Linked DNA regions of Homo sapiens. The protein of the gene in region 2 interacts with the protein of the main gene of each other region in a pairwise test. Each region holds a gene or a part of one and is shown on either strand. Other genes may lie near its edges. The genes, in order: ZPBP, ERRFI1, OSTF1 and EFEMP1.

What was found.
Region 1: the proteins of ERRFI1 (region 2) and ZPBP interact in a two-hybrid assay, tested with the Homo sapiens proteins (one study listed by BioGRID).
Region 3: the proteins of ERRFI1 (region 2) and OSTF1 interact in a two-hybrid assay, tested with the Homo sapiens proteins (one study listed by BioGRID).
Region 4: the proteins of ERRFI1 (region 2) and EFEMP1 interact in a two-hybrid assay, tested with the Homo sapiens proteins (one study listed by BioGRID).

Annotation. Positions count from the first base shown.
Region 1 is NC_000007.14:50,089,812-50,097,626, forward strand, and holds the start of ZPBP (zona pellucida-binding protein 1 isoform 1 precursor), read right to left. Parts: upstream 3,436-7,815; 5' UTR 3,384-3,435; coding exon 3,257-3,383; intron 3,211-3,256; exon of another isoform or gene 3,052-3,210; intron 1-3,051. Other genes in the region: protein SPMIP7, read left to right, coding at 6,275-6,827.
Region 2 is NC_000001.11:8,011,227-8,017,245, forward strand, and holds the end of ERRFI1 (ERBB receptor feedback inhibitor 1), read right to left. Parts: exon of another isoform or gene 4,467-6,019; 5' UTR 4,394-4,466; coding exon 4,269-4,393; intron 4,175-4,268; exon of another isoform or gene 4,159-4,174; coding exon 4,082-4,158; intron 3,171-4,081; coding exon 1,984-3,170; 3' UTR 501-1,983; downstream 1-500.
Region 3 is NC_000009.12:75,082,975-75,091,892, forward strand, and holds the start of OSTF1 (osteoclast-stimulating factor 1), read left to right. Parts: upstream 1-5,539; 5' UTR 5,540-5,718; coding exon 5,719-5,752; coding exon of another isoform or gene 5,753-5,761; intron 5,762-8,918.
Region 4 is NC_000002.12:55,864,889-55,872,140, reverse strand, and holds the end of EFEMP1 (EGF-containing fibulin-like extracellular matrix protein 1 precursor), read left to right. Parts: intron 1-1,017; coding exon 1,018-1,141; intron 1,142-1,225; coding exon 1,226-1,421; intron 1,422-4,906; coding exon 4,907-5,068; 3' UTR 5,069-6,174; downstream 6,175-7,252. UniProt on the Homo sapiens protein: Binds EGFR, the EGF receptor, inducing EGFR autophosphorylation and the activation of downstream signaling pathways. May play a role in cell adhesion and migration. May function as a negative regulator of chondrocyte differentiation.

The DNA.
Region 1 (7,815 bases), on a different chromosome or scaffold from region 2:
TTCAATCTCCTCTGACAGTTGATATCACTGTTCCAACTCTATTCCCCCTCAGATGATCTGATAAATTTAATCTACGTACTGCTTCTCCATATTATATCTCACCTCTGATTTTTTCTAAAGCCATTTAGAATAATCTCTTCATTATTAGAAGTTCAAATCTCCCACCATTCAAGACCCAAATCACAAGTCCCTTCTCCTTCAAACCTCGTTTGTCCTTAGCACTTCTTATCTGCCACAGTACATCACCAGCACCTTTTTAATAACACTCATTCTACATTGTACTATAGTTCTTTGTTTTTAATTTCCTTAAGTTTTGGAGGAACAGGTGGTATTCGGTTACATAAATTCTTTAGTAAGGATTTTTGAGATTTTGGTATACCCATCACATAATAAACACTAAACCCAATTTGTAGTCTTTTATCCCTCACCCCCATCCCACCGTTTCTCCCACCCCCGAGTCCCCAAAGACCATTGTATCATTCTCATGCCTTTGCATCCTCATAGCTTAGCTCCCACTTATAAATGAGAACATATAATGTTTGGTTTTGCATTCCTGAGTTACTTCACTTAGAATAATAGTCTCCAATCCCATCCAGGTTGCTGCAAGTGCCATTAATCCATTCCTTTTTATAGTTGAGTAGTATTCCATATATATATTTATGTTTGTGTGTGTGTGTGTGTATATGAGTGTATATATATGTGTATATATGTGTATATATATGTGTGTATATATGTGTGCATATATATGCATATATATGTGTATATATTTGTGTATATATATGCGTATATATGCGTATATATGTGTATATATGTGTATATATATACACACACACATGCACACACACACACACATATATATATACACATATACCATACACCACAGTTTCTTTATCCACTCATTGACTGATGGGCATTTGGGCTGGTTCCATGTTTTTGCAACTGTGAATTGTGCTGCTATCAACGTGTGTGTGCAAGTACCTTTTTCATATAATGACTTATTTTCCTCCGGGTAGACACCAGTAGTTGGACTGCTGGATCCAGTGGTAGTTCTACTTTCAGTTCTTTAGGGAATCTCCACAATTTTCCATAGTGGTTGTACTAGTTTACATTCCCACCAGCAGTGTAGAAGTGTTCCCTTTTCACTGCATCCACACCAACATCTATTTTTTTTTTTATTTTTTGATTATGGCCATTCTTGCGAGAGTAAGGTGATATCACATTGTGGTTTTGATTTGCATTTCTCTGATAACTAGTGATGTTGAGCATTTTTTCATATGTTTGTTGGCCATTTGTATATCTTCTTTTGAGAACTGCCTATTCATGTCCTTAGCCCACTTTTTGATGGGACTGTTGGGGTTTTTTTTCATGCTAATTTGTTTGAGTTCCTTGTAGATTCTAGATATAGATTCCAGATATTAGTCCTTTGCCAGATGTATATATTGTGAAGGTTTTCTCCCATTCTGTGGGTTGTCTGTTTACTCTGCTGACTGTTCCGTTTGCTGTGCAAAAGCTCTTTAGTTTAATTAAGTCCGACATATTTGTCCTTGTTTTTGTTGCATTTGCTTTTGGGTTCTTGGACATGAAATCTTTGCCTAAATGGTGCTGGGATAATTGGAAAGCCACATGCAGAAGAATGAAACTGGATCCTCATCTCTCACCTTACATAAAAATCAACTCAAGATGAATTAAGGACTTAAATCTAGGACCTGAAACTATAAAAATTCTAGAAGATAATATCAGAAAAACCCTTGTAGACATCGGCTTATACTATAGTTCTTGATACACACATACCATTTTCCTTATTAGATTATAAGCTCCATTGATAGTGGGATCAATGTTTATGTTAACTTATCAAGAATCAGTATCAAACACTATACCTTGCACATTGTAAATATTAAATAATAATTGTGAAACATATTCTGATAGTCTTCATTGTTAAATGAGCAAATGTGATGGGCATAATAGTGTGAGGGGCAGTATAAAAATGCAATAAAGCATTATACCCAAATAGCCTTTAGCAGACAGGAATAGCAAAGTGCAAAGAAAAGGATGTGGTATCAAAGCCAGAGGACTTGAGTTTAAATCCTAATTCTGCCACTTACTGGTTTTAGGAAAATCACTTTAAACTCTAGGAGCTTCAGTTTTCTTATATGTAAAATGGGACTAATAATAATTCCATCCTTACAGTTACTGTAGAAAATGAGAATACTGTATAAATTGTAAAATGCTATATAAGAGGCCTTCACTATTCATCACTTACAAGATACTAACTGCTTATTCTATTTCTTATATCTCATAGGTCTAATCTTATTATTTCATCAAAAGATCACCAGGTAAAAATTTAAAATAAAAACCCTTTCACACCTAATACACGACCACGACCCATATCCAAGAAGCATCTTTCTCCTACATGGCAATTGATGGCTATCGGCTATTCATATACTTATAGAAGAATAATCTTTGGATTCCTGATGCCTGGACTTTGATTTTTAAATCTCTATTCACTCCATTTGTTTCCTTTCTCCTCCCCTATCCCCTACCTACCTCCACAAACCTTTTACATTTATATTCTTGGAGGACTTCTTTTTTTCATTATTCCTTATTTGAACAACTTTTTTCATTTGAAGCAAATCTCTGTGATTTTATCAATTTTGGGTCTAGAATTTTGAGTCTAGAATGCAGCCAAAACCTTTCTAGTTAAATAACAGTTCAATTAAACTTTCACATCCTTCGTCAGTGTTTGTTCATCAGTATCTTACATGTATTTTTAAAACAGTATAGAAAAGTACTTCAATTCTTTAGAGGTCAAAACTTTAAAATCGCATTATTTCCTGTATTTCACAGCTAAAACCAATAGATGGCGCTCCACCATCACGGATAATTTGAAAGCAGCAGGTTGCCTATTTGAAAGACACTGATCTCATCATTACAGAGTTCACACACTGAAATGCAAACCTGGCAGATGACCCATGGACTGAATTGGGGAGTTTATCAACAAAGCAATTTAATTGTAAAACTTCAACTGTGGGTGACGTAGTGATCCATCTATACCTTAATTTCCTGTCATTCACTCCTCTATGCAAATGCAGAGTGACTTTGTACGACTTCCATAAAAAATAAGCCTTTCTTGTCACGTATTAGTGAGCAAGGTGTCTCTATATAAAACGGATGCACGTGACACAAGAAAAGGCAATTCGAAGAGTGGGGGAAGCTGCGGTTGTCCCTGCGGAGCCGGCAGGGCGGCGCGGACCCTCACCTGATGAGGGCACCCGCACCAGGAAGGCGGAGATAAAGAGGAGGATGGCGGCCCGAGAGAGCAGGGAGCCGGCGGCCCGGGTCCGCCGCCTGCCCCGCCGCGCTGGGCCAAGGGCGAAGGCCTCCATCCACACGCCGCCGTCGCCTGCCCACCGTCCGCGCGGAAGGTCGTTAGGCAACGCGCGCCCACCTGCAGCCGGAAGTTGGCGGGCGGAGGACCGGAACAACGGACCTGATGGACGTGCTCCCACTTCCGCCGGGGTGGTAGACTAGGGGTCAGCCTGTGTCTCCACATAGCTGGTGGGGCCTACACGCGCCAACTGTGCTGTGCAGCCCCCGGGCCTTCAGGACAACACAGCCACGCAGGGCATCCTCAAGAACATCAGTGATTTGTCCAAGATCCTAGAGCTGAGAGAGAATCGTTGGGCCCCAAATCCCGTGCTTTTACCTTTGCATAGCGTTTATGATCGAAAAGCCCTTTTTATGAGCCAGGTGGTAGATGTGGGGCCCAGTTTCGAACAACAGATAGTGAGAATGCATGAGTTAAGACGTGTAAAGCCCTCAGTGGACTGCTTTGATCTAGTAATGTCAGCAGATAGTATTTTATGGATGTGTGGAACTTAATTGGGAGATAAATGCAATACACACTTAGTGGGAATTAAAGGTAAGTAAGGCCTTTAGCCTCAGAAAGAAGCTTGATGGAAGGACAGAGGAAATAACCATAGATGAAATTTACTTTCTAAAATAGACCGGAAGATCATCTTATAGTGTCACCTAAATTCAGCAAAACATACAAAACCATCTATCCTGTGTGGGAGACCAGAATATACCTTCTCAAATATGAAGGATTGCTGCCCTGAAGACAAGAACCAGCAGATGCAGGAGAGCTGTCCACCTGCCCTCTTTTTACCCAGAAGCAAGACATAGATTAGAAAGAGAAAAGGTATCCTGCCCCACTCCTTTACCAGGGAGAACAAAGGTTAACCACTGAAGACAGCGTCAGACCCTCATTAGCCTTGAAATGATATCAGAGGAATTAATATTAGCTTTTTTTAAACCATCTTTTGTCTGCTATTTGTTTGCTTAGCCCAAGTTACTGCCTGTAGAGACTCAGAGTCCTTTTCCTTTGTCACATCTCTAAAAATTTCCTAGTCTTTGTTGAAGATGCTATACAAGCTGGAATTCAAAGACGCTTCTTTGAGAACTACTCATTCTCTGGGTGTTCCTCATATATAAATGAAATATATTAATAAACATCTGTTTTTCTCTTGTTAATCTGTCTCTTGTAAAGGATCCATTCTAAGTACAAAGTTATGGGGGTTATTATTTTCCCATACACAGCCTAAGAGGCCATTTATAGCTAGAACTTGTTTTAGAGAAATTGAAAGAGACTCATGCCTCTACTTTTCTGCTGCTGGAAGGATTTACTTAATGGGAGCAGAGCTGTGATAGAAATAAATCTTAAGCAGTTGGTTTAAATACATTGAAGAATGAAGTTTGAGCAACTAAATGTAGAATGCCTAATTACAAGTGAGTTATCACTTTTGATATGAAGAAATGAGTGATCATGGGTGGACTAAAAACTGTCACTTGATATGCTATGATCTGGATGAAGGATTTAAAACTGACAGCCTAACCACCTAATTTAATCTCACTTGTTTAATAGTATATCTCAAAATTGTAAAGACTTTCAATGGGGCATAGGCATTCTGATTGTACCAAACATATCACCCTTGACAGTTGGCCTGATTAACGATTATGTGCCTGACTCTTCAAAGCTAGAATCTTGCCTGTTTTAACATTTTTGCTGCAGTAAGGATGATGTGAACTTTTACCCCAAATTCTAATATTTGCATTTCCTCTTATAGTAGTTCATGCAAGATGAAATTATCCAGGTGAAAGAGCTTTTAAGTGAACCAATACATTAGTGATTTAAATGATATTTTGTGTGTAGACAGTTAACTGATACCCATTGTGGTTTCCTAAAATGAACTTAAAACTCTTACTGTTCTTACTCTGGACACCATGGCAAATTTAAGGGAAGTAAAGATAATTTAGGGCATGTAAAGATGTACCTGTACTTTCATTATAATTTTCTGTTTTTCTTAAAAATTAGATATACTAGGGCTGGGCACAGTGGCTCACACCTGTAATCCCAGCACTTTGGGAGGCCGAGGCGGGCAGATCACAAGGTCAGGAGATCGAGACCATCCTGGCTAACACAGTGAAACCCCATCTCTACTAAAAATACAAAAAATTAGCCGGGCATGGTGGCGGGCGCCTGCAGTCCCAGCTGCTTGGGAGGCTGAGGCAGGAGAATGGCGTGAACCTGGGAGGCGGAGCTTGCAGTGAGCCAAGATCACACCACTGCACTCCAGCCTAGGCGACAGAGTGAGACTCCACCAAAAAAAAAAAATTAGATGTACCAATTTAACTTTAGTAATGTTTATATTTTGTAGTGCATTTAGATTTACATTTAATTAGATAGCAAGTGTTATATATATAAATACTTAATTGTAGTCACATATATACTTTTGAGAAATGTATTGTCACTGAATTAACTGCTTTATTTACACTCCTTAAATATATTTTATACCCATAAAATACCAACTTATGGAAAAATTTTAAAATAAGTAAATGAACACAGCTTTCCTGAGCACTGGGGAGAAAAGTATCATGGAAATATTAGTACCAAGGCTATTTTTGTTTTTCTTAAGAATTGTGATGTACATAATAAATGGTTCAATGTGTTAAGAATTCTAGCCGTTGCCAGGCAACAAGGGCTCTGCTTTATTCTCCTTATGTCATGTTCCTTCATTGCCCTATTCTTCCTTTGGTGGAGGAAAATATTTGCCTTAAAAAGAAAAACAAAATTATCTGCCAACATTTAGAAAGCTGTGTCAATTTTATACTAGTTTAACACAGATCTTTAGTTATTGGCAATAGAGTTTATATAGTTAAATATAAAGGAATTATCAGAAATACTTTATAGTTATCAAAAATTCTAAAGAAAAAGGCCATGGATGTAGAAATTCAGGACACACCTGGAAAGATAAGTATCTCTAAAAGGTCCATCCTTTCAGGAACTGTTGAGAATATAGATTACCCACACTATTGTGATCTCTTAAGAAAAATGAACATGCCTTTTGTGAAAGGTCTTGAGAACAGACATAACTATGGCAGGTTTGAAAAGAAATGCAACCCTGCTTTTCTTAAATTTCACCCTTATCCCCCTTCAGTTTTGCCAGACTATCATTTACATGATCCTTATCCCCCACCATATGGGCCACATTATCCATTATTTCCACTTCGGGATGATGTGACCTTAGGTGATTCCTGTTCAGGGTTTATGAGTCCTGGTGGTGATGCTGATTTAAATCCTGGCATTGGCAGAACCATACCAACCCTAGTGGATTTTAGTGATGTGAAACCTCAACATCGAGTTCCCAGACCAGACACAGGATTTCAAACAACAATAAAAAGGCAAAAAATTCTATCAGAAGAACTGCAACAGAACAGGAGATGGAATTCCAGGGAAGTACCAGACATTTCTATCAGAGCAAGACTTGGAGGTAAATGAAGTGACATGAACTTTCTATTTTTTAAATGCTCAAGGGAAGAGAGTATGGACATAAGATTCAATATTTAGGCAGTTAAATTAACAAAATTACAATGATCTGAAAAAGGTTTTATTTTTAAATTACAGATTATAAGAAACAAAGGAATGATAAACCTTATAAACTTATTTGTAAAAGAAAATTTATTCTTTAAGAAAAGAACATTCATTAGTGATTAACACAAAGTATATAACATTATTTATTCTAGATATATGGATAAGCTTGTTTTACCACAGGGGAATTTATGTATCACTTTGATAATTGTATAGAAATCCTCCTTATCTGTCTCTCTCCTTTGAAAGAATGAATTCACTGATATTATGAAAGAGTTAGTTTTAAGGATTGAAATAAAATGGGAAAAATTTAAGTACTTGAACGTACATTTTTTGGCTCCAATAAGAACAGAAGCTGAAATGAAGCAAACTCTGCATAAATAGCTCCACAGCCATGGAGGCAGGTTTGATGACCTCTTACTGACATCTGCACCATGTGGTTTCTCTGTAAGAACTCCTGTAAATGGAGTTCCTCTAAATGATGAGAAACACCTCCAAAGGAAAGCCACAGGTACTATTTTCTGTATAAAAGCTGTCTGGCAGGCAGGAATGTAAAAAGATCAACATTTTTAGCATCGGAAAAGGAAAGGGCCAAATGCTATAGGAAGAATACTTTTAAACATTATTCTAAGAAATTATAGGTTGAAGAAATGGCTTAGCAAAGCTAACATAGGGCTAAAATGGTGTTAACAGACTTTGTACCACCAAGTCAGAACCAAGTATAGAGCTCATCTGTCCCATGTATTTCACTGCCTGAATCAGTGAAACAGAGGAGTTTAGAGAACAGGCTTTAGACTCAGACTGTCTGGCCTTGAGCTCTGGCAAAAACTCAGTTGCTGTACGACCCAGGGCTAGTTACTATTCTCTTTATGCCTGTGTATCCTTACTTG
Region 2 (6,019 bases):
GAGCACTCCAGCCCCTGCCTCCATCCAAAGGCTGCCAGGAGCCCATTTGTCCACTGTGGACTTGCCATCTCCATGACAGGCCAAGGCAGGTGCAGATTCCTTGGGTGGCCTTAAGCAAGAAGCAAAGCCTGCCAAAGGGCCCAGAGTAACCGGGACCTCGTCCTAAAAATCAGAATGAGTCAAACCAAGTCTACACATCAGAACTGGTTTCTTCTGTCACGTTCTCCTTGATGTGGACTCCCACCCCCAACGTTGTTTCTGATAGTAACCCCAGAATCCAGTTCTCTTTCAGTTGTTAAAGGTAAAAACAAACAGCTCATTTCCACTGTATACTTTCATAATATGTGAAAAAGATTGCACAAATTATGTTTCATTCTAAAGAATAAGAGTTTCAAGAATACATTAAACTTCAAAGAATCTTCGCTTGTGCTTAAAAATAATGCTGTCAAATTGCTTCATACACTTTATAAGACTTTAGGCAAGAAACATTACTAATGGTATCATAAATAAGTATTATAACTTTATTAAAATGAAAAGACAATATTCAAAATAATGCAACAAAATGAATAAAATCCTTTGTCCAATACTGTACACATAATGCAGAAATCAGTGCATTTTTCTTAAGCATGTTTTAACCTTCATTTAGTTCATACTAAAATATAATAAGCTTTAAATAGCTCAAATAATATTCAGCAGTTTAAACTGTAAACAGCTTGTTTAACTGTTAAGAGAACATTGCAGTAATGTACCTCTGTTAGTGAGCACCTTCTCTTCTGTGCTTATCTCTTCAAGATAAATACATGGAAGGATGTGAAAATCGGAACACCAACTATGTGTCTCACTGCATCTAAGTGAAGCAGCCACAGCTGTGAGAGTTTTCAAAGCAGAAAGATGCTGATGTGACCTCTGGAATTCAGACATACTGAGCTATGGGTCAGAAGTGTTTTACTTAAAAAGCAAACAATCCCCAGGAAATACTGAATAGGAACCAGCAACACAAGGCCAGCTTGTGTTGTATGTTTATTAATACAGTCTAAAAAAAAAAAGCAAAACCACAACACACATCCCCAAACAATAACTCTCAATCACATAGCTAATTGCTTCATTATTTTGTAAAACTGACATCCTAACACTGGCACCTAGAATACTTTTCCATCTGAGTCTAACGTACCCCACTGCCTCTAATACGGCCCGCACTACGATGAGCTACTTCAGTGGGTGGGACCAAGCAGGAACTGTAAGGGAAAATTAGTCACTAGTTCTATTATCGTTTTATTTTTCAAGATGTGTGACAGGTACAGGTGACAATATGGTTGCCAAGTAACCTGCTCTCCCTCCCTCAACAAGACGCAACATGAAACCTGGAAGTATGAGGCCTTGGTATGATTTTTAACCTAAGCAGGTACACCCATGGTAAAGAATGGATACCCTGCCCTCCATGGAAAAGATTGCCTGCAAAAATAAATGGAACAAAATAGAAAAGGCCTAAAAGCCAGAAATCTTCAAACTTACTAAACAAAAATATTTTTTAATGATTCTGATCTAAACAATACTGTATCTTCTTCCATTTGCTCAATTTTCAGTCTATCAGGACTCATTTCTCCAGCTTGAGTTTATTATTCTGAATATATATTACTCTACGATAGTAACTAATTGGTTAACCTGCAGCTATGGTCTATGGTTATACCACAAGTTTATATATAGGTATGTAATGTATGCATATATAAAAAGCTTCCCCATCCTCCCCTCCCCACCATCACATCTTTAAATTATAGACTTGTAAGACTTTTTTCCAACACTAACAAAGTCAGGGTTTCTCAGCATAACAGCATCTCACAACTGCTCTAAACCTTCCACATGAAGACAGAGAGTTCAACTATTTTATTTTGCAATCTAAGGGATTTTTCTCTGCACTTCAATCAAACTGGAAAATTGAGAACCATTTGCTCCTATGTAACCTCTGCTGAACCATGACCCCAAGGTCTAAGGAGAAACCACATAGGATAAATGTTTACGCTTCACGTGGCCACCCAGATCCATTTTTGTTTTTGAGTCTGGCTTTTCTGTGGCTGAAGATATACCGCAGTCAGCAGGTAATGGCTGGATTTGGGCGCCTCCATTTGTTTCTTCTGCTTCCCTAAAAAATTTTTCATATTTGTCCAGGTATGGTGGTCGTTCAGGTAGTAGGTAATAATGTGTTGAACTAACCTTCTTCCCATTTTCAATAATGGGCAGAATGCAAGGAACCTTACTGGCAGATCCTTCGCTGTTCTGTCTTTGCAGTGCTTTGCTGCTGACATACTTGGGATCAGGGGCAAAGCTCTGTGTCGGGGGCATGACCCCATTGAGGTAAGACGGAAGGCTTTTGGGACTCGGTGTGCGCGAGTTACTCGGTGACAAAGGTTCTCTTGGCGGTACTTTGGGAGGCCTGTCTTCATCACTATAGGTGCTCGAAGTAACTTCTGCTGACCATCTTCTATAATCTGGCTTTACTGGTCTAGGAGGTATGGGAACTCTGGGGGGAACCTCAGGTTTGTCTTCATCGGAGTTAGGAGAAGCTCTGTGTATACAACAGTTGGATATCCTTATGGCTGGCTTGTTAAAGGAGCCAGCTGGTCCCGAATGAGACCTTCTTAATCTTCGGTGGGTCTGAGGTGGAGGAGGATTTGGATCTGGGACACCTCCATTTTGGTCAGACACATAGCTGAGATCTGCTGCAGAAACAGCTGGGGTATCAAAATATGCATAGTTGATTTGTCCACACCCACGGAAGCTTCGCCTGCCAGGAACATCATATTTGAAATCAGAAAGTGTAGAGTCTTCTAAAAGGAAGTCTGTATCTGAGCTAGTTAGGAATTCCACCTCACAGTCTGTGTCATCCAGAGAGAGGGCTTCAGAGATTGGCAACGGTGGAAGAGGCCTAGAACCCCGTTCACAAAGAGGGGCACAGGGGAAAAGGGAAGGGGAGTTTTTTATGGGTGTCAGTGGAGGGGTGGAAGCACAAACCCCATTCACTGTGAGTTTCTTAAAACCACATACAACTTGATCCTCTTCATGTGGTCCCAAGTTTTCACTTGGGGGAATAAGAAGAGGGGGCAAGCTGGACTTTTGAGATGGACCATTTTCTGCAAAGCAGTGGCCATTCATCGGAGCAGATTTGGAAGCATGCCCTGGAATGAACGAGAGATATTAATAAAAGATCAACAATCCTCTCTCCACCTGTGTGAGGGAGAGAGCACCCCAGCTACCTATGCTTCCACAGCTTTCTTCCTGAGTGAAACACTTGACTGCTGTCACCCCGAGAACACCCATGCAACCACCACAGGTGTAATTAGAGAGCAGAAGATTCTTAACGCACATGGTGTGGTTCAAAGAACAAACTATCTCCTCTATCTCCCTTGGACATGTGCACAGCGCACACCCACACATCACAGGCAAGTTTTGTGACGTGTGTAAAATTCGCGGAAGATGAATAGCATATAATTTACATGAATACCATACTGTACCAGCCTTGCCATTTAAGACATGCGACCATACTAGGCACGTAGGGTACCAATGAGATAAGACAAAGTCCTTATTGCTGGCACATCATAATATTGTGAGTGAATGGACTTGCCTGCAATGTGTTCAGTTCACACACAGCTCTTGACAAAGATCCAAGGAACAGAATATTCACATTAAAAATACTATTTTTTAAGTTTTGAGGAACATTTATACTATTTTCATCTATTACTGTCAAACATGCATTCGATACTAGTAAGAAAGGTGGGAAATCTCGCCTAAGGTTTCATGAAGTAAAGTATGCATCAGAGCTGGAATGAGAACTAATTCTTGATTTTAGAAGATCCCACGTCCATGAACAGTCCTACTTAGCAATCAGTGACTCAGAATGAAGGCAGTCGAGTACAATAGCTTGAGAAAAACACAGTTATCTTCTGAATCTGTTGCCACTAGGGGTCAGGCTGTTGTTGGAAATAGTTCAGGTTTCCTCATTTAAAAAATAATGCTGGAGGACAAGCTAACCCGAATCCAGACTGTTCTTCTCAAATGCTTACTGTGATCAGATTTTCAGAATACATACCAAGTGGTATTAGGCGCTCCTGAGCAGAAGAGTTCAGACTGTAGGCCATGGTTATCGGGTCAATATTTAAAAAGTTGCTGAAAGGAGAGGAAGCTACTTTGGTCATAAGCGAAGAGCAATCACAGCCTCTCCCATTTTAGTGTCACATATTTATCCAGATTACAGCAGCATTACATCCTCTACTTACTTTTTAAACTCACTGCGACTGCTCCAGTAGGTCTTCCTCATATTCCCCATGGCTCGGCCATTATGTAGAAATCCAGTTTTTAATGGGACTCTGATCTCCTGAGCAGCAACTCCTGCTATTGACATTGTGCCTTATTCTGGGACATCTCCAAACCTGTGAGGCCCAGGCACTTTAAAATCAACCAGTAGCTTTCATTCCCTGGGAGGTAGAAGAGATGAGAGAATAAAGAAAACAATTCAGAAATACCTCCATTAGGACAGTCTAAATTACAGCAAAGCTAACAGAGGATTTGGGGGATGCTGAATAGAAAAAATTAGTTGTAGACTTTCACTTAATTCTCACAGCTCGTGAGGGTACTTATATGTAAACACTAAAAATGATTTTTTGTGTAAATGCTAATCCAAAAGACATGAAATGTTTTAGTGAAATGAGAAATAATCTATTGCCAGCAAAAGCAGACCTCCTACTGCACAGCCTGAGAGTTGCACAACAAATCACACTCACTTGGCAATGCACACAGACCCTCCCCTGACTTATTAAACCAGCCTTCTAAGTTACGGCTGCACTGGGCATGAAGCACCAGTGGATCCTGCTTATTTTTCCCAAGCTAAAAAAGTAATTTCAGAAGCCACTGTATTTTATGCTGTAGAACTAATACTCACTAAAACACAATGCTGAAACTAAGCAAGAGTTTCTACAGTATTGGCACCTGACTACCCCAGGGTCTAGCATTTATCTGGATTTTGTATTTCAGGGTTGGCCATGGGGAGACAAATTCTCCAGTTACTACTTGTTCAAGGAACAAACAGTAATATATGAAGATACTAATTTCCATTATCCTGTAAAAATCAAGTTCTGCAAGATTACTGGCTTCAGTAAAAGCCTGGGACAGCTTCCTCCCTCCCTTTTAAAGACAAGTTAAAGGTACATTCTTTACATCCTCCTTTGTGAAACACCCAGTAACTCATATCTTGCTTAGCTGCAAGGCATGGATAACAAAATAAGTACATTTTTCTTAAATTAGTAGTTCCTCAACTTCAGGACCGCCAATCCCCTTTGTCAGATGTTACAGGTCTGGAGTCCCTATAGCCCCCTTTTCACTTTCCTTTTTTATTATTCGTTATGTGTTAGTCAGCATCAATCTCTGCTGTCTTCAGATAGCCAAGTTTATTTATAAGTTTAGGTTTTTTTCCTTAGGCACCAGGATATTATTTGTCAACTATTGTGTAACACTGACCCCTTTTGGGGGCACGTACATATACACTCTTTAACACGATCTCATTCTCTCACTAAATATTAGTAAGGGATCAGTGCAAATAATATCTGCACAGCTGAGTGCTGGGCACTGTGCAAAGGCTGGGCACTGTGCAAATGTGACACATTTGCTGTGGGGGAGAGGTACACAGGTTTTTTTTTTTGTTTTTTTTTTTGCTCAGCAACTTCAAATCTATTATTTACAAATCTGTCACCTCCTACTAGACTAAGCTCAGGACAGAGGCTGTGTCTCAATCACCTTTTAACAATCAGTACCTGGAACATTAGTAGGTGCTCAGTAAGTGAATGTTTGCTGAATGAATGATTGTATAATACCATCTAATTATCATAATCAGTATCAACTCAATATACACATTGTGTAAGGCACAGGGTTTTTTTTTTTAAAGCTAAAAACTTTTAAAAAATACTCTGCAAGTGTTTATTATTATTTTCCCATTAGAAAGGAACACAGTGATAAGTAATGTTCTACAGGTTCA
Region 3 (8,918 bases), on a different chromosome or scaffold from region 2:
CCCCAGGACTCTGGAATCCTCACTGCTTCTCCGTCCCCCACTCCATCCACACAGAAACACCATTTGGACATCCTCAGTATCTTAAAGAGCTGTTTGTAGCAAAATTACTCACCCACTGATTCCAATGATAAATGTTTTCATAATTAGCTTTGAAAATCACAGCTTCCTAATATTTCCTAAAAGTAAAAAAACAAACAAACAAATCAAATGCATTTCATTTAGATGTCTAGGGAGATAAAAGAATCCTAAATTAGGAGCACCAGCTGAGAGGGGAGGATGACAGTGACCTTTCAGCCCAGCCCCGCATTATCCACATTCCCGCCGCACTGGCTTCCCCTGCTACCACTGAGTGCCAACCACTGGGGTGTGCTCAGGACTGTCAAACAGTTCAACGTCAGGTGACCTGCCGGAGCACTCCCCCTTGAACGTCTGTTTTCTGGGCGTGGAAGAACTGCTAGGCCACAGCGTGGTATATGAAGTTTCATCCTCTCCTTAGCCAGGTTGCCTTCCACCTTCACGATTCAGTCGCCTGGGTATGACTCATTATCAGTGAGGGAGGGACCCCTGTGGGCTGGCCTCTTTCTCCCCTCATGAGACAAGGAAAAAGTCACTGCTGACCAGAGGCAAAAAGAAGCTAATGCCGTTTAAAGATACTGCCCTTATGAGACAAGAAGAAAGTTACTGCTGGCCAGAGGCAAAATGAAGCTAATGCCGTTTAAAGACACTATTTCTTCACCCAAAAGCCTAGGTCTTGGGCCTGGCTAGGTACATTTTTTTTGGAAACAGGCCAGACAGTAAATATTTGACACTATGTGGGCCAAGAGGCAAAATCTAGGTTGTTATGTATGGACTTATATAACAAGAGAAAAAACATTTTCACAATTTTTTTTGATGAAATTCAACATATAATCATAATTTTTTTAACAGGTCTACTAATGACAAGAATGAAATTCCCTTTTATTGGGCTATCATTTCTCTTAATTGGATTTCTGTTGTGCTTTCTACATGAAACTGCAAATGTTCAGGCAGAGGGCCAAGTTAAGCCACCGGCCACTGTTTTGTGGATTTTTGGTTTAGGGGATGGAGGGCAGTTTCATACATGCCTCCCTAACGTTCACTAAAGTAGTCCTTGGTTATTACAATGGGCCATTTTTCTCACTAAGTGAAAAGGTGAAGCACAGCTGGAGGGAATCTTAGAATAGTGGCTCCTGAAGGTCATCCCTGAAGGCCACTCTTCTTCCTTCCTATCTGCTCAGGGGGGTTGCCAGGGACCTAGGCCGTGTAGCCAGGGGCAAGCGGCTGCCTGCCAAGCTGGAGGCTCCCAGCAATGCTCCAGTTTCTATGATCTGTGTCCACACTCTCCCTGGGGAGGGGTTATGCAGAAAAAAGCCTGGTGGGAAGAGGGCTATTGTTGTCTGACTTCTTGGCTTATCTAAATATCCCACATTGAGTACAATTGCTTAAGACTGGGGTCCACTTCCATTAACAAGTCTATGTGAGACAAGAATCAATAATGACTGTGATAAAATAGCAGCAGGGCACTGTGGCTCATGCCTATAATCCCAGCACTTTGGGAGGCCAAGGCAGGCGGATTGCTTGAGCTCAGGAGGTTGAGACCAGCCTGGGCAACATGGCAAAACGCTACCTCTACCAAAAATACAAAAGATTATCCAGGCATGGTGGCATGCTCCTGTAGTCCCAGCTACTTCGGAGGCTGAGGTGGGAGGATTGCTTGAGCCTACAAGGTGGGGGTAGCAGTGAGTGGAGATTGAGCCGCTGCACTCCAGCCTGGGTGGCAGAGTGAGGCCCTGTCTTAAAAAATAAAATAAAATAGCAGACAAGTTGCATATTTAAGTTTCATCCAGAGTTATGTTGTTGAATACACATCTCCATCCAAATTTACAAGATGTATCGAGGGAATGACTGCATACAATGAATATTGTAAAATACATTTTTATGTTGTAATTTTTCTGCTTTTGAATTTTATTTTACCCTATTCTTATTTTTTTGGTATGTCGGTTCAATGCTGCCAATTAGCCTTTTTTTGGGAAGGGAGAGGCTGCTCTTTATCTCACTTTTGTGGTGATAAATGTTCTTTCTCTTACAAAACTATGTTGTCAGAAGATGTTAGTAGAGTGATATCCTCACTTTACCAAATAAAATAAAAATTCATAAAACCTTGTCATTCCTTGCCCCCATTATTTTTGGATAGCTCGCTGAAGCATAAATTCTCAAACTTGGAGAAGTATAGCTTTAGCGATTACTTGGTCTACCCCTTCATTTTGCATAAGTGGAAACTGGCTCAGACAATAGAGCAATTTGCCTAAGGTCACACAGACAGTAAGTGGAAAAGCCAGATATTAAACTAAACCAATTGAGCTGACTTCTTTCTATCACTCCAAGCTGCTAAAAAGCACTTTATTACTAACAGCAAAGAAAGGGTGTTAGGTATGTGCTAGCTTAATTGTCAGGCTCTGATGTATAATTGATGTCATTCTTACTGATGTATTATTGATGGGGCATCTATTTGCTGTGCACACAGAATGGAAAGGACTACTGGTCCCCGTCCTAAACTGCCACATCTGTGGTTACACGTGTGACCATTGCATCAATTACATGGCATGTAAATAACAAGTGAGCATGGTTGTGGCATGGGAAATAGGCTTGAGGGGGTTACTTGCATTCAGGAACCAGGAGTAAGATGGCATAAAAAACCTACTTATAAAATCTCTCAGATACAGTCAAATGTAAGTTTTTTTTTTTTTTTTTTTTTTTTTTTAACCAAAACAGGAACTCCCAGTTCTACATTAGTTAGCAGTCTGGGCCTGTCCAAGCCAGTGTTTGGGTAAATGCTGGGCATACCCTATCAGCTATGAGCAAGTGACAATGTGATGGGAAGGGTGGGTAACTGGAACATGCAGAGACAAGAGAGGCAACTGGGCTAAGTGACTAGGGCGGGGTGGGGGGTGGGCCTAGCAATCCCTGAAGGCATTTATTTCAAAAACAGTGTGGATGCACAGGGCAGCTTTAGGGGAGCTCCAAGTTCAGGCCTGGCACTGTCCACCTCCACATCACATTCTACTATTTCATTGCCTGTTGCCCCTATAAAAAAAATCACCAAGGCTGCAGTGAGCCATGACTGTGCCACTGCATTGCAGCCTTGGTGACACAGCGAGACCCTATCTTGAAAAAAACCAAAACAAACAGGCAAAAAACAACCCAAAAACTGCCTCCCATAAAACCAAAAACAAAACAAAAAATCAAATTTAAAAAGCTCGCAATTGAGTTGCCAGGCTTCATGAAGCAAATGCAAGCTTCGTACAAACTGTAAATCATGTGATGTGTCCAAAGAGTCATCATTTCAGGGCACGTCTATCACTAGAATCCACACCACCTTCAATCTCATGGAATATCTGTGTAGTTTATTTTCCCAGTGCGTGCAAGGCTTTCCTCAACAGCGGAGAGCTTTTGCATAGCAGGAGAACAAACTAGGATAGCCAAGAGCAAACCTGAAATGACTAATTTTATTTTTTACACTTTTTTTTAACCCTAAGTAAAATGTTGGGTTTTTTAAAATAATTCAGGTGTGTTTATTATGCTTAATTCATTTCACTACTAAACACTTGCCTTTTGGATTCTAAACTGCAGAATGGTCAGAAGTGGCATGTGCAGAATCAGCAGATTGTACGAACTCTCTAACGCAGCTCTCTAACGCAAATGATCTGAAAGACAGCTGACAAAGCTAAATGTGCTCTTCAAATGTATCTACAGGACAGTCTGATATTTTAAAAAGAGAAAAATGTTTCCAGGACTTCTTACTCTGTATTCTATCCAACAGCTATTTTGATTCTCTTCTTCCAGGAGATAGGGCAGTCTTTTCCTACTATTGTTTAAACTTTGCTCCCTTTTGGTAAACAAATCCCTCAAGGCTGGGTTTTTTTTTTTTTTTTAAGACAGAGTCTCGCTCTGTTGCCAGGCTGGAGTGCAGTGGCGCAATCTCGGCTTACTGCAACCTCCGCCTTCTGGGTTCAAGTGATTCTCCTGCCCCAGCCTCCCGAGTAGCTGGGACTACAGGCGTCTGCCACCACGCCCGGCTAATTTTTTGCAGTTTTAGTAGAGATCGGGTTTCACCAGGTTGGCCAAGATGGTCTTGATCTCTTGACCTCGTGATCCACCCGCCTTGCCCTCCCAAAGTGCTGGGATTACAGACGTGAAGGGCTGGGGTTTTTGAAAACGCAATTCATGCCCCTCCCCCATTGGTTTCATTTATGTAGGTTCTTAGGTAAACAGTTTTTTCTTTCCCCAAATATACAATTAATTTACAATATTGACTGTTATTTTGAACTTATGCCATTGGCTTCCTTGTGTGCTCCAGTTCTTTCCTCCCACCGAAGATTCAATCCGATAGATCAGGGGTAGGAAAACTTTTTCTGTAAAGTGCCAGACAGGAAATGCTTTGGGCTTTGCCAGCTGCTACTCAACCCTGCTGGGTAATGCGAAAGCGGCCACAGAAAACACAGATGCAAATGAGCGTGACCGTGTTCCAGTAAAATTTTACGGACACTGAAATCGTAATTTCATGTAATTTTCACGTGTCACAAAGTATTATATTTCTTTTTATTTCTTTTCAGTCATTAAAAAAAGTAAAAAAAAAAAAAATTCTTAGCAGGCCTTACAGTAACAGGCAGCAGGCGGGCAGTAGGTCATCACCCCAACGCTAGAGGAATGAGACCATATCGATCCGCGAGGATCAAGTCCTGATCCTGTCCCTGGCGACTTCTCCAGGCTGCGCGGTCTCTTGGAGGCAGCGTTCCCATTTTCAGGATTATTCCGGGGCGCTAGAGCACCACGCCACCATGAGTACACGTCCTCCTCGGCAGGCCACCTATCAGCTCTGTGAGGGTGGCAAGAGTCCAGGCAAGGCTTTCAGGGCGCAACCAAGTCCCGGGCTCCAGCACAGAAACCCTCTGGAAACACCTCCAGGCCCCAGCAAGGCGGCGCGGCGCGGCAGGGGCGAGCAGGTACGCACTCACCTGGCGCCAGTTCGAGTCCTCCCAAACACAGCGGCAGAGGCGACAGCCAAGCGCGCGCCTGTACCCAGTGCGCCGCTACCCGCAGCTCGCTCCCCGAGAGGCCCACAGCCCCTTTCCCCACGCTCCTCCTGGGTTAGAGGGATGCCAGGTAGGGGCGGTCACCAGAGGCCCCTTTTCTCTACTCTCGGCGCCGGGTTCCAGCCCCCGTTGGGGCGGGGCGGGGCGGGGCGGGGCTCCGGCTAGCTTGGCCTCTTCCGCGCGCCCCTGCGCAGCTCCGGCCCTTCCCTATCGGGAGCGCGCGCGGCCCGCGGCACTGCACTGGCGCACGCCCGCTTCGCCCTCGCTCGGCTCCGGCTGGTTCCGCCGCCGTGCGCGCCGCCCGCGCTCCTGCTGCGGCGAAGCTGCCAGCCCGGGAGCCAATTAGCGCTCGGCTAGGCGGGGTCCACTTCCTCGTCGGCCCGGCGCGCGCTCTGGACTGCTCCGGCGGCCGCGGGGCGGGGCGGAGCACTCGGCGGAGCCGCTCTGCCTGCGTCCGCTCTTCCCGCAGCCAAGGGTGGGCGCCGGTCCTAGGAGGCGCACGGTTGTAAGCCAGACAAAAAGAACTGGGGTGCCCGGAGTGCCAGGTGGCGGGCAAGCGGTGGGCTTTTCGGCGGGGTCTTTAGGATTTGCAGCTCCAGGAAGCGAGATGTCGAAGCCGCCACCCAAACCAGTCAAACCAGGTGAGGGAGGTAAGGTAGGCGCTTGCCAGGTCCTGCGACCGCCGCGGTGCCGGCGCCTCCTCTGCAGCTTGGCAGGGAGGACCCGGCGCGCACCCGGCCCCGAGCCTGGCTTCCGAGATCGGCCCCACCGGGATGGGCGCTCTTAGTTTTGCGTTCGCTGTTACGGAGGAGGGATCGATTTTGATAGCAAGAGGATTTCGAGGATTAATATATATATATATATTTAAAGGGGAGTAGCCCTCACTTTTGCTACGTTGTCATTCGCTGAAACTTTCAGAGGGTGTGATGGCAACGTCCCATGGAAGTTTTCCGGAAAGACAGGGCCATTGATCTCCCTTTAAAAAATGTCATGAAATGATCTTTAGCCACTTCCTCTTTTCTCAGTGTTTGTCACTGTCAAGTTAGGGTTCCTGACCGGCCAGAGCGAACGGGAAGTGCAATCCCTGCAGGGTGGGGTGGGCGAGCGAGCCTCCCTCGGGACTTAAGCGTGGAGCAGCGTTTGAAATTGACCTCGGGATCTTGGGAAGAGCGTTTAGAAAAAAACCCTATACTCGCGCTCCTGGTGGAAAGAATCTAGGATGCGGCAGTGATCTCAGCTGTTGCTATTTGGAAGTGTCATTTTATCATCTCCTTTGCCTTTGCTCTCCCAAAGACGTTGGCGTGCTAAACCTGAGAGGGCTGAGATTACTAAATTCCTCAAAGCAGTTTTCTGGGCGGATTGTCCTTGTTCATTTTTGCTCTGTTCTTAGAATATTTTCTGTGATATGCAGAAATAAGATAATTGTAAAAGAAACTGACGTATTTTAATTAAAAGTTGTAACATACTGTTCCGCTCATTCATTTGGGTAGGTAATTAGAAAGGACTGACGTATTTCAATACTTTAACAACTCTTACGTGCATTCATTTGGGTAGGTAATTAAGGGAAATACAGGAAATGGAAGATAAATGGCTCCGATGTATTCTTGGGTTTTTTCTTCCCATAGTGTAATTTCGGTATAGCGAAATGCTGAAATTTAATCCATTTACGTCAAATTTTGAAGTAACTTTCTTTGCAAGAGATGAGTTTCAGTGATTACTTTTTTCCTTGATTTTCCTAAACTCTATAGCTTTCATACTTATCTAGTTTTGTTTCTTTGCGTTCCTGCAGTTGGAGTATGAAGTCCCTTTATTTGATAATCATGTACGTACGTATGTGGAATAGTGCTTCACTGAGGACTGACATCTTGGTGGGCTGAGTGTGAAGGAAGTTGCTGAGACTGGCTCTGCCCTGGGCAAAGATGGGGCACAGCTAGAGTTGGGTTCTGCATTGCATTAGATGTGGAATCTGATGAGAAATTTCCATTTTAAGTGCATATGTATGAGGTAGCTTTCTAAACTCAGGTGCAAATCAGGACCTTAAGTATCTAACAGTGCAGAGTTGTTCTTTGATAGCTAAACAATATTTTATTTATCTTATTTTTTTCTGATCACCTGCTGCCAGTTGAAATACGTTAAAGAATGCCCTTTTTAAAAATCTCTTCATGCGTATTAAATGCTGTCTATATTGCAAATGGAGGGACATTGACAGGTGTGTGTGTGTGTGTGTGTGTGTGTGTGTGTGTGTACACAGTAATGTATACATGTGGGTTCATTCACACTTGGGGGTTTAAGGGTCATCCTGTTACTAATTGTGGATACATTCCCAGGAACCTCCTTTCTCCTTCACATCAGAAAGCTTATGGTTAAACATGACAGGTGTTTAGAGGGAACTTTGCATTTTATTTTATTTTAATTTGTTTTATCTGGTCCTTGATTCAGGATAAAGGGAATTTTGAATCAACATTAATTTACAAATGAGATCCAGACACAAAGTTACCATAGAAATGGGTTTGCCAGTTTAGTAATTTACAGTGAGAAACATTACTGCCAATCAGAGTTGAAACTTTGTGTGGGCTAGCTTAGTTGAAGAAAAAAAAAAAGCGATGGCCAGGAGCAGTGGGCCATGCCTGTAATCCTAGCACTTTATGAGGCTGAGGTGGGAGGATTGCTTGAGGCTAGGAGTTTGAGACTAGCCTGGGCAACATAGCAAGACCCCGTCTCAACAGAGTACAAAAAACAAAAACAGAAATGTCCTATCGTAGTACTGTCCCACATTTACTGTGTGTTAGGCAATGGTATAGTCACTTTACACGTGTTAACACATTTGCTGCTCTCAACAATCTTATGAGATCAGTACCATTATATTGTTCCTGTTGCACAGATGGGGAAATAAAGATGCGCAGAAATGTTATTTAACTTGTCTAAAGTCAACAGTTAGAGTGGGGGATGTAGCAGGCAGTATTAAAACCCAGGTAGTCTGGCTTTGAAGTCTGCACTTTTTTTTTTTTTTTTTTTTTTGAGACAGACTCTCGCTCTGTTGCCCAGGCTGGAGTGCAGTGGCGCGATCTCGGCTCACTGCAACCTCCGCCTCTCGGGATCAAGCAATTCTCTGCCTCAGCCTCCCGAGCAGCTGGGATTACAGGCAGCCCGCCACCATGCCCGGCTAATTTTTTTTTTGTATTTTTAGTAGAGACAGGATCCAGGCTGGTCTTGAACTCCTGACCTTGTGATCCACCCTCCTTCGCTTCCCAAAGTGTGGGATCACTGTGCCTGGCCAAAGTCTGCACTCTTAACCATTTGCTATTCTGCCTTAAGTCATAGTGCTCCATTCACACTGGCGGTCAAATGTGTATTTTAGAGCTGGTGGTCAGGAAGTCGAAAGGGAGGGGCCTCTGGTCTACAGACTTTCTTGTCACAAATGCACATAAAGGTCAGCCCCTGGTTGACAGCAAGGAGAGTGGTGTGGAGCTTTACTTTCTTGTCCTGCAGGCAAGCTGCATGGATAAAAATCTCCAAAGACAGCATGGGATTGGGGGCTTTGGGGTTGTATTTAATTTTTTGGTTTGTTTAAACCTTGCCTCATTCCAAAAGGACTTCTAAAAATACACATGATCTGAGAGAGAGGAAAAAGTAAAGATAAAGCATGGTCATCTAGAGGAAGGGAAGAATAGTAAGATGAAACAAGAGGAAAAGCTAGCTTACAGACAGACCTGCATGTGTAGTAAGGTCACTGTAGATTTGGCTCTCAGCTGCAAGCAGAGAGAAAAATCTCAAGATTCATAGTGCTCATAAAATTAAAATGTGTCA
Region 4 (7,252 bases), on a different chromosome or scaffold from region 2:
CAAATGTAAAGGGAGACAGACATAGAGATGTAGATATTAATTTTATTTTTATTGTTGTTGTTGTTGTTGTTATAAATGTAATGGCTCTCTAGTAAAACTGTTCTCTCAGATGTCATCTGGAGGCTTCTGATTCCCAAATTTAAAGTCAATCTTTGTCCAGCCTGAGGTAAACACAACCCTTCTTCCCAGGATTCTCTCTCCCTCTGACTTCTTTGGCATTGCCTTTTCCTGGGTTGTCTCCCTGCACTGACAGCCTCTTCCTTAACTTCCTCTTTTTCCTTACAGTCCTAAAATTGCTATGCTCTATGAGGTGGAACACTTCATAGTTTCACTTCCTGTGCTGTGCTTCCTCTGGACAGTATAATCCACTCCCAGCATGCTTCAGCTTACTGAAACCAGATTTCTAGCCTTTACCTTTCTCCCAAGTTCCTGAAAGAGATGATAAGCTGCCCTCCATAGTTTATGCTTCCTGATTTCTCAGCTTGGAAAGCCTTCCCTGCCCCAGCCATGAAAACTCCATCTAACCACCACCCTTCAAGGCCACGTTGAGATGCCTCTTCCTTCCTTCAGCCTTCCCTAATCCCCCTGGCAAAATTACCCAACTCTGCTCCACATGCCCCAGTATACTTATCTATCTCTTACTTAATTCCATTTTACTTTCTAAGTAATCATATACACATTCCCTCAATTATAATGTCCCTGATGACAAGAACTGGTGTTTAACTTTTATATAGGCAGAGTCAGTGGTTAACATTGGGGTTTGAATTCAACAGATGAACAATAGGTGCTTGATAAAATATCATGAAATGACACATATTAATCTGCCTAGAATGTCTCAGCTCTGTCTGTCCTGAATTCAATACAATGAACACCCAGTCTTGTGTCTAAAAGCAGGTTGAACACAGTCCAGATGCTCTCACACCTCCTTCCTTGCAAACAGAATCTGCCAGTTATATGATTTAATTAGATCAGTTCATTAGTTTAGTTAGTAAACTCTTTGACCCTACATCTCTACAGATATAAATGAGTGTGAGACCACAAATGAATGCCGGGAGGATGAAATGTGTTGGAATTATCATGGCGGCTTCCGTTGTTATCCACGAAATCCTTGTCAAGATCCCTACATTCTAACACCAGAGAAGTAAGAAAAATCAGAACTTTTGAAAGTGAGGATTTTCTGGTCTTACCAAGCCAAACTGCTGAATACTTTTGTTTGTCTCTGCAGCCGATGTGTTTGCCCAGTCTCAAATGCCATGTGCCGAGAACTGCCCCAGTCAATAGTCTACAAATACATGAGCATCCGATCTGATAGGTCTGTGCCATCAGACATCTTCCAGATACAGGCCACAACTATTTATGCCAACACCATCAATACTTTTCGGATTAAATCTGGAAATGAAAATGGAGAGTTCTACCTACGAGTAAGTATCCTGAAGGCAGCCTTAACTATTGAGAAAGATGGGAGTTTGTTGTTGTTGTTGTTGTTGTTGTTGTTGTGTGGTATCCACATGTGGAAGGAAAGCAAACATTTAAAGTGTCTTATGTGTAGGCATTGTGTAAGGCCTTCCAGCTACATTATTTCATTTATTCCTCTTGGTAACACTGCCAGATAGATATTAATATTCATCTCCATTTTTTACAGAGGAGAAAAGTGAGATGCAGAAAGATTAAGTAGCATCCCTGAAATCACTCAAATATTAAGTTTGGCAGACTCTGATAGAGTTGTGTGTGACCACGAAAATACAAGCCTCCCATCCCCCCGCCTCTGCCCCCACCCAACATACCCCCCAAGTAGGTATCACTAATCATTGATGGTTAATTAATTATACATAGACATACATATAATTCAAACCCAAAATAATTCCTGGAGCTCCTAAAGAGTTTTTCAGACATCATGAATTCATCATTGTTACATTCACAAGACAGTTTGTGTTCACACCGAAACTAAAACCTATAAGTATGTGAGAAGTGACCCCACCTCCCCGCACAGTATGTGTCAGTAGTTGTACCATTCTTGCCAACTTCTGGGCTGGCAGTATGGAGTCATCTCCCTATCTTTCATTGCCTGTGTGAAATCTACTTTCTGAATTCTGCCATTTCCCTCTTCACACTGTCTCCTGGGTTATCTTTGCTTCCTCACATCCCTATCTCTCTTCCTATAAACTGGCTCCCGTCACTTCCATGATCCCTTCAGTGGCTTCTGAGCTGGTCTCCCTGACCCCAAAGCCTCAGCCTTCCAGTCTCCCTACAAAATCTCAGCAAGTTCATTTTAGGTTAAAATTTGGACATATTTTAAATACGGCTCACCACTTCATGTGAAAATGATGGCACCCTACCAAGCAGTTTGCAGAGTTACGGTAACTGTTTCATGCTAATGATGTTATTCATCCAGTTACAATTTTCTCAAAACTCCTTTGGGCACTCTTTATTTTTAATCAAATTTTAAAGCCAATATTTCATTTTGAGAATATGAATTAAATTGGGAAATTCATCCTTGTGGTACAGTTTACAGATTTTTAATGTTTACCCATTTATCCTGTTTTTTGATATATTAATTTCCCATATAGCTCCAGAGTTATGTGATATTATTTCTTTGCCAGTATATTAGAAAATGATTAATTTCTCATGACCAACTTCTGAAAAGAAAGACCCAATGCAAAATGCAATCTATTACAATTATTTTTTTGAATAAAAAAGAATATATTATAGTTCTTTAACATTTGATATTTTAAATTTGACATATTCTTGATATTTGTAAGAAATTTCCACTGAATGAATTTTACACAATTCAGATACTACCAATTAACTAATTCTAGCCTAAACAAATAACATTATTTTTAAATAACAAAATCTTTAAAAATAATTTTCTATTTTGAACTTTTAGCCATAATGTAAGAAAATAAAATTTTCTAGCAGAATAATCAAAGAGTGAAACAAAGTTCCAACATGTTTTTTCTTTGCAATTAAACATGGCACTTTTACAGTTATTTATTATTCATATCAGTGCACTTACCGACTTCATATTTTCAAATCAAAATACAGTGTTTTTCTCCAGTGAAATCCTTATTCTCATGACTGATAGAAAACATTGCCAATTTTGATATTTCCAGAGTTAATGTTAAATTATTTGAAAGAAAATTATTTAAAATAATAAAAATAGACATTTCAAGACTATTTCTTATCACATAATTCAAAAAGTACTTGGATCAAATCCTACAGAGTTTCTCCACTAAAATTCTACTTGTGCAGAGGGCATTGAAACGCATGAAAATCAACAGCAGGTTAGTTAGGTTAATTAATTCGGTTAATTAAGCACCTACTACATGCTCAGCTCTATGCTAGGTGTCATGAGGAATTAAAAGGACATGTAATGCACATTTTCTGATTTCAAGGAGCTTTAAATATTATTGTGTAGAAAAAGTTAACATCTATGAAAATAGAAGTGGGGCAATTTTGTGCTTAATTCCATGGTCCAGATACATCAAAAAATCAATGTGGGCTGTCAAAGAAGGTTTCTTGATAGTCATGAGTCAGCCTGATTCTTGAAAGGATATGTGGAATATAAAATTTTATTTATATTCCTTTTGAGAAAATACTGAGAAAACCATCTTCCCTGGAAAAGAGAACGTATTGTAAAGAAAGTACATGAAATTGAAGGTTGAATATCCAACATCCCCCACACTGCCCCAGTGTCTCTGCTCCCTTACTGAGCCTTACTATTATTCTTCATAGCCCTATCACTACCTAGTCTAGTATTCACTGAACTGTGTCATCCACTAGAATATGAGCATAATGAGAGCAGAGACTACACCTGTCGGTTCAGTATTCTATCCTCAGCACATAGAATGGTACCTGGCACATAGCAGATGCTAAAATAAAATTTAAATGAATAAATTAATTCAATCAACACCTTCAAGGTGTTATTATTACCTACAACTATTGTTTACAAGAGGTATGCACCGTGGAAGATCCTGGAGACACAACAATGAATAAAGCCAAGCCAGTTCCTGCCCCCGTGGAGCTTGTAGTCAAGACATTGAACAAGTGATCAGAAAGATGTTGACTGCTGCAGCAGAGGGTTGCAAGCTGCTCATGAGTATATAACAAGTAGCCCTAACCAAAGCATTCTCTCCCTTGGTTTAATGTCCACCCATTGAGGTGACTGCTAAATACTAATCCATGACTCTATCCCTTGGCATTCAAACTCACACATCCACTTACCTGCCTCTCCAACCTCATCTCCCTCCACTCACAAGAGCCCATCATATTATTCATCAAAATGAAACTGCACCCAGTTCTTCTGAACATATTACTTTACAAAACTTTCATTTATGCCTGGTGACTCTCATCAGGCATTCAAAAGCTTTCCCTCAGTGCTTCAGGGCTCTTCCTTTTCTTCCCTTTATACATACACCTTTATGTATCTTCATACGTACCCTGCATAACCTCATATATCTTAGCATTTACCATATTCTGTTGAAAAACTGTTTCCATTTCTCTTTACTTACTAGAATGTAAACAGATGCACAATGTTGAGAAAATGAAAAGTGACAACTTTGTTTACAAGTTTAGAAATTATCAGATTCTCACTTAAGCTCTAGTCTCTGTAAAGTCCACAACTACTCAATAAAAGTGAAGAAAAATGTTAACAGAGAGGGAGGAATCAAAAACAAAGAACTATTTAAAAAAAAAAAAAAGCAAGTCCTTGAAACTTGGAGCTAATGACTGTATTAGACAAGGGATAAGAGCCAAGAAGAGTTGAAACCAAGAAGGGACCAAGTAGTGGCTCTTTTATACCACCTTCAAAATTCTCCCCCTAATTCTTATAGGAGGTATACTAACAAAGCATAGAAACTCCAATCCAAGAAAATTATTCTCTTCCTTTCTCTATTTTCTTTTATTTTAGCAAACAAGTCCTGTAAGTGCAATGCTTGTGCTCGTGAAGTCATTATCAGGACCAAGAGAACATATCGTGGACCTGGAGATGCTGACAGTCAGCAGTATAGGGACCTTCCGCACAAGCTCTGTGTTAAGATTGACAATAATAGTGGGGCCATTTTCATTTTAGTCTTTTCTAAGAGTCAACCACAGGCATTTAAGTCAGCCAAAGAATATTGTTACCTTAAAGCACTATTTTATTTATAGATATATCTAGTGCATCTACATCTCTATACTGTACACTCACCCATAATTCAAACAATTACACCATGGTATAAAGTGGGCATTTAATATGTAAAGATTCAAAGTTTGTCTTTATTACTATATGTAAATTAGACATTAATCCACTAAACTGGTCTTCTTCAAGAGAGCTAAGTATACACTATCTGGTGAAACTTGGATTCTTTCCTATAAAAGTGGGACCAAGCAATGATGATCTTCTGTGGTGCTTAAGGAAACTTACTAGAGCTCCACTAACAGTCTCATAAGGAGGCAGCCATCATAACCATTGAATAGCATGCAAGGGTAAGAATGAGTTTTTAACTGCTTTGTAAGAAAATGGAAAAGGTCAATAAAGATATATTTCTTTAGAAAATGGGGATCTGCCATATTTGTGTTGGTTTTTATTTTCATATCCAGCCTAAAGGTGGTTGTTTATTATATAGTAATAAATCATTGCTGTACAATATGCTGGTTTCTGTAGGGTATTTTTAATTTTGTCAGAAATTTTAGATTGTGAATATTTTGTAAAAAACAGTAAGCAAAATTTTCCAGAATTCCCAAAATGAACCAGATATCCCCTAGAAAATTATACTATTGAGAAATCTATGGGGAGGATATGAGAAAATAAATTCCTTCTAAACCACATTGGAACTGACCTGAAGAAGCAAACTCGGAAAATATAATAACATCCCTGAATTCAGGACTTCCACAAGATGCAGAACAAAATGGATAAAAGGTATTTCACTGGAGAAGTTTTAATTTCTAAGTAAAATTTAAATCCTAACACTTCACTAATTTATAACTAAAATTTCTCATCTTCGTACTTGATGCTCACAGAGGAAGAAAATGATGATGGTTTTTATTCCTGGCATCCAGAGTGACAGTGAACTTAAGCAAATTACCCTCCTACCCAATTCTATGGAATATTTTATACGTCTCCTTGTTTAAAATGTCACTGCTTTACTTTGATGTATCATATTTTTAAATAAAAATAAATATTCCTTTAGAAGATCACTCTATCTTTGGAGGTTTTTCAGTGTAGTCAGTAGCCCCCAATATAATTTTTATATCTGGGATAAACATCAGTTATAGGTGCCAGCACAAGAACTACCATTAGGTTTTTTTTTTAATAAATAAACTGGGAGATGAGGAAGCAAAAATACAGTTAAAATCATGCCACAAAACAGCCAACTTTTTCTTAAGTCTAGTTTCACAGCATATATGCATAACCTCTGTCACCAGGTAATCTTGCTGCTAAAACAAATACCTCTCAAAGAGTTGACTCATGTGCAGAAATTGCCAAAAAGAAAGTTCAGCAAAAGCCCAAGGAACAAAACACAAACTCCTTCTGTGAGAGTAGGGGATGGGCTCTTAAAGGTTAAAGGGGCACAGAAACAGTGGAGAGAGAACAGATCTGACCAAGGGACAGCACAGAAGCAGAGTCAACAACCAGCCACAACACAGCAAGACTGTTGAGTTCATTCCTCTTACCCTGTCTACATGGTTGCTTACAGTCAAGATAAATTACAGCTTGATCTAAATGTTTCCATTTTTAATCAATCTAGTGATTTTCCTACATACAAAAACAGCTCTCAAGTGAGAGCTGGGAATAGCAACAGTTAAAGAAAAAAAGCCTAAGACCTTCTTCCAACACATTTTTCCCTCTTAAACAAGAAAACCGGTCTTGTCTATGGCTCCCCAGGGAATTGTAGAAGAAACAGGAATCTCTGAAATGTTTATGCTAAGCCCTGGCCCTCAATTTCTACCTCCAAATATATATATATATATATATTTTCTGGGCCTGCGGAAGCCATTAACTGCAGACAAGATGTTTGCCCTTTTATCCCAAAGCCTAGTCCTACCCACAAATTACAGACACAAGGAAGAGGGTTGATACTGAAGTTTCACTGAGGCAATTTCTTTGTTCTGTTGTGATAAAATTTACCATTTTAGACATTTTAAAGTGTACAGTTCAGTGGCATGGAGTACACTCAGAGTGTTGAGCAAATATCGTCACTATCTAGTTCAGGGGCCCCCAACCACTCCCCCAACAACTGGGCTGCAGACTGGTACCTGTCCATGGCCTGTTAGG